Regions from separate parts of the Homo sapiens genome. Here region 1 is linked to region 2. Evidence: fine-mapped expression QTL. A gene starts in region 2. The other region holds a variant in brackets. All regions are shown on one strand. Distances are from middle to middle.

Region 1 (2,840 bases), 75 kb before region 2:
TATATTTTTATAAATATTTGTATAAAATACTACATTACTCTTACTCTCCTAAAATATTACTTTCATTATATGTGTATCAAAAATCAAAATACAGCATTGCTTTGTAAGTTTTAAAATTTTATATAAATGGTATCATACTTAATGTATCTACAACTTAAAAAAAGTATGTATGTTTTTGAGATTTATCTACATTAGTCAGGATAGCTCTAAATTTTTCATTTAAATGGATGTATAAATATGTATTTATCCATTTTCCTGTAAACATTTATGTTGCTTCTTTAAGAAAAACTTTCTTTGCTATTAAAAATGCTACTATATTCTTATAAATGTCTCCTTGTATACATGTGAAAAATTCTAGCAAGGGCAGAAATATGGGGGTCATATGGGATGCACATTTTCAGTTTTATATAGACGTGTCAATCTGCTTTTCACAGTGATTATAACAATTAGAATTGTCCCAGTAGATCATAACACCTATATCCCCAGAATCTTAGCAATGTTTGGTTTTGTCATACTTTTTAACTTATGCCAATCAAATAGGTATGAAACATTATTTTGTTATATTTATTATGGTAGTAGACTATGTTATTGTGATGGACTGTATTACTATTCACTAATATCCTGCCCCTCCTTACATGATACATCACTGTTTTTGCTGGACTCAGGCTTGGGCAACATGACTTGCTTTGGCCAATGTAACATAAGTCCCATGTGACCCTTTTATAGGAAAGGTTTTATAGAGTTAGTGTGTGCTTCACCATGTTCTTTCTTTTTCCCTCAGCTACTGAGAATGCCAAAATTACAGACAGAGGCTGCTCTGTCGGCCTAGGTCCTGTCTTATGGATCACAGTGACATGGTACAGATCCCCAACAGAGCCCCAAATGATCACTTAGCATGACCTTATTGTTTATGCCATTAAGATTTTTGGGGTTATTATTAATGGGGACAGAGCCTATGATCTGTTTCCAATTATTCCCTCCACACTTTTCATGGAGATATGCTATCCTGCCCTACTGACTTCAAGGCATGGCCACATGACTTGCTTTGGCCAATGGAATGTGAGTAAAGATGGTGTATGTCACTTCTCAGTAGAAACTTTAACCAGGCTTATATTATTTGGTTGTTCTTCCTTGAGCCTTCACTTTCCTTCATGAGAACAGCACTGAGGTTCTGCGGGCTATTTGTTGCCAATGCAAAAGCTGACTAATACACTATAAAATATGGACTATATCAACCAATAGAATAATATTTAATAAGATTGAACATATTTTCATATGTTTATGAGATATTTTGTGAATTAACTGTTTAAGTTTGCTTATTTTTTCCCCCCAATAGCTTTTCTTCTTTAAAAAACTGATTAGTAGGATTGGCGTGGTGGCTTGTGCCTATAATCTTAGCATTTTGGGAGTCCAAGCCTAGAGGATCACTTGAGTTCAGGAGTTTGAAACCAGCCTGGCAATACTGCGAGACCCCATCCCCATGAAACAAAGTTAGCCAAGTATGATGGTGGTGCTTGCCTGTAGTCCTAGCTACTGGAGAAGCTGAGGTAGGAGGACTGCTTGAGCCCAGGCAATGAG[G/A]TTATAGTGAGCAATGATCATCCTACCTGCTTTCCAGCTGGGGCAAGAGTGAGACCCTGTCTCACAAAAATGAATAAATAAATAAATAAATACATACATACGTAAGAAATTAATCTATAGAAATTTATGGAAAAAGTAATTCTATAAACTCATCCTCTATGAGTTATATGCATGGCAAGTATCAGCTTTTAGTTTGTAGCTTATCTTTTAATTTTGTCATTTGAAGAAAAACTTTTAATTATAAGGTGGGCAACTTTATCAACTGTTTTCTTAATTGTTTGTACTTTGTTTTATTTAAGAAATCCTTCCCAAACCTGAGATCGTAATTACATCAATCAACTACAGTCAAGTACCACATAAAGATGTTTTTGGTTAACAAGGGACCCCAGCAGTGGTCTCATAAGATTATAATACCACATTTTTACTGTACCTTTTTTATGCTTAGTTATACAAATACTTACCATTATGTTACAACTGCCTACAGTATTCAGTACAGTAACATGTTATACAGGCTTTATCACCTAGGTTTGTGTAAGTACACTCTATGATGTTCCCACAATGGTGAAATCCCCTAACAACACATTTCTCAGAGCATATTCCTGACGTTAAGCAATGCATGACTATCAATATTTTTTTTTAGTAAAAAGTTTCACTTTTCATACTTAGATTTTTAAACTGCATAGGAAATTTTTTTTTTTTTGTACATTGAAAGGTATTTTTTTCCCACATGGACAATCAATTTCCTAATATCATTTATAAAAAGTCTATCCTTTCCCCATTTATTCAATCAATTTTTATATTTCATGTTTTCTAAAACCTTACATTATACCTAAGTTTTCAAATATATTGGTCTAGTTTTTGTAGTATTAATAATTATGTCTTTAGTTTAAAAAATCTTTATCTGATATCTGCTTTTTCATCACTAACATTTCTTTTTTTCTGTCATTTCTTTTTCTGGTAAGCCTTGCTGCTAGAGTTTGGTTTATTTTTTAAATAAACAATACTGTTTTCTTGAGACTGTTTAATTTCTTATGTTATTTATAATATTATTTCCATATTTATATTAGGTTATTTTAGTTATTTGGTTTATTATGTTTTCTAACTCGTGTTGAATATTTAACTCATTTCTTTTCAGTCTTTTTTTTTTTTTTTCTTTTTAAAGACAAGCTCTTGCTATGCTGTCCTGTCTGGACTCAAACTCCTAGGCTCGAGCAATCTTCCCGCTTCAGCCTCCCAAGTATCTGGGATTACAAATGTGAGTT
Region 2 (2,840 bases):
GCGTAAGCAGAAAAATCACAAAGTTCTAAGCGCTGAAAAGCTATGGTGTGGGATTTCTAAAACAATGATCAAGGTTACCTCCAGGAGAGCCTGGTTCTTTTCCCAAGAACACACATACCCAACCACTTATCAAGTTCAATGTACTCCAGTACTTGAAAACTCATACAGGGAACAAATGACTTGTATGGATAATTCAACACTGCTGAGAAACTGTGTATCGGGGGCAAGCATCGTTAAGAGAGCTCTTCCAGACAACTCCATTCAGAGCTGCGCACTCACACTCTCCTTCGCCCAGCCCTGTTTTATTTTCTTCAAACATGTTTCATTAAAAAGAATAAATTTTTAAAAAAAACCTTTTTTTTTTTTTTTGAGACGGGGTCTTGCTTTGTCTCCCAGGCTGGAGTGCAGTGAAGCGATCTCGGCTCACCGCAACCTCTGCCTCCCGGGTTCAAGCAATCCTCCCACCTCAGCCTCCTGAGTAGCTAGGATTACAAGCGCGTGTCACCACGCCCGGCTAATTTTTGTATTTTTAGTAGAGACAGGGTTTCACCATGTGGGTCAGGCTGGTCTCGAACTCCTGACCTCGTGATCCGCCCGCCTCGGCCTCCCAAAGTGCTCGGATTACAGGCGTGAGCCACCAAGCCGGGCCTCACAATGCCTATCTTTCTTACTACACTCCCTCCTAACTGTACATTCTGGGAGAGCGCGGACCTTTCCATCTGTATCTCCAGCGCTCGGCACTCAAAAAAATGCACTGAATAAATGAAACCGTGAGCTCTCATCAAAGTCTGGACCAAAGAGTCCCTCTTCTGTTTCTCACAAACTTCTGTCTCCTAAACACTCTTCTTCAATTAGTAGCAGAATTTTGCCTCCCCCCCAAAAAAAACACATCTTGACCTCATGAAGAAAACTCCCGATCTAATCTTGGAAGCACTGAGCTCCACCGAAAAGGAGAAAGGCTTAAGAGAATCCTGTAGAGAAAAGCTCCGTGAGAAGAATTAACGTGAGCCTGAACGGGCTGAGTTAGGTTACGCCACGGTGAGAAAAGGCTGGGCAAGGGAGGCAAGGAAGCCTGGAACCCTGGGGACCGCGGTCTCCCTGGTGAAACCAGAGTCTACACTCCCAGAGAGGCCCACCCCGACGAGACGGCCTGAGGAGGCTAGGAGGCCCCGGGAGGATGAAGCCGCAGCCCCCGCTCGGCCCGGGGAGTGCGGCGGGAAGCGCTTTCGAAAGGCCGCGGAGCGCCAGGCCCTGCAGGCCGCCCGGGGACTCAACTCACCTGGCCCACTTGCTCCGTGGCATCGGCCAGGATGCCATAATTGCGGTAAAGCTCCTCTACTGTCGGCATGGTGAGCGACAAGCCCAGGGCCCGGTTCCGCTATCCTTGTCCTGACCGGCGCCACCGCCGCCTCGGAACTTCTCCAAACCCACTACCCGCACTATTACACCTCCAGCTGCCGCCAGTGCAGCCGCCAGTCACCGCGCACAGCGCGGCTGCGCCCCCGACGTCTACGTAAAGACGCGCACGTCGGGAGCGGCCTTCAGTAGACACCCCCCACCCCAATGCGCCTCCGCGGTTTTTGTCGCCCTCTACAGCCTGGAGGAGCAAAAAAGCGGCAAGGATGATTGAATTAGCTCACGCCTTTTTGAAAGCTTGAGCTTGGCTGCAGGCTCTCCATGGAAGGGGTGTGGGTGGGCGGGGAAGTGAATACAAAGACAATTGCGTTTCTGCCCTTAGAAGATCTTACATATGAGAAGTCACAAATGGTTTCCTCCTGATTCAAGGAAGGTAATATTAATCGGTGGCACTAGAGGCTAGTGGGTCCGGTGGGAAGCAAAAAACATTCCTATGCTATTAAAAAACCCTCTGTGTCCACCACGCTCATCAAGTGCGGGGTCAAATTTGGCCTGCTGGAAGAATTTGCTTATCTTTGCTGCCAGTGTAAAGAATTGGGGCCACCTGATTATGTCCAGTATCCAAAAGAATAATAAATAAATGAAATCACGTACGCTTACTGATAAGAATTTCTAAGATACAAGTTTAAATGAAATTATATATATAATATGATATAATATATAATATTTTATATATTATATAATATATAACATTATATATTAATATATAATAATTTTATATATTATATAATATATAATATTATATATTAATATATAATATTATATATTATATAATATATAACATTATATATTAATATATAAATATATAATATATAATATAAATATAATAATATTATATTAATATATAAATATATAATATATAATATAAATATAATAATATTATATTAATATATATTAAGATAATAATATTAATTAATACATTAATTATATAATATAATTATAATATATCTATATATTGAGATATAATATTAATTAATATATCAATATTATCAATTATATATTATAATTATCTTATATTATATATAATATATTAATTATATAATTAATATATTAATATTATTATCTTAATATATATTAATATATTATTATATTTATATATCATATATAATATTATGATATTAATATTATAATATATATTATATATTATATTATATATACAATTATATATATAATATATATTATATATTGTATATTATTATATAATTATATATTAAGATAATAATATATATTAAGATAATAATATATTATATATATTAAGATAATAATATATATTATATATATTAAGATAATAATATATATTTATATATTAAGATAATTATATTTATATAATAATATTATATATATATATAGCCGTGTGCGGTGGCTAACGCCTGTAATCTCAGCACTTTGGAAGGCTGAGTTGGGTGGATCACTTGAGGTCAGGA

What was found. PIP is the estimated chance that this variant, and not a neighbour inherited with it, causes the effect.
Region 1: its variant is the best candidate, but not a certain one, in a credible set for the expression of API5 in whole blood (INTERVAL, PIP 0.59).

Annotation. Positions count from the first base shown.
Region 1 is chr11:43,385,608-43,388,447 of GRCh38, reverse strand. All of the region lies in intron 2 of TTC17 (tetratricopeptide repeat domain 17), which reads right to left. Among named protein-coding and RNA genes, the nearest start is that of TTC17, 28 kb to the right of the region's middle. The variant G/A (reference allele first, on the strand shown) is at 1,579.
Region 2 is chr11:43,310,636-43,313,475 of GRCh38, reverse strand. API5 (apoptosis inhibitor 5) reads right to left here and starts at 1,480. Exons shown (of 14, transcript NM_001142930.2): 1 at 1,280-1,480. The coding sequence starts at 1,348. RefSeq lists an enhancer at 952-1,727.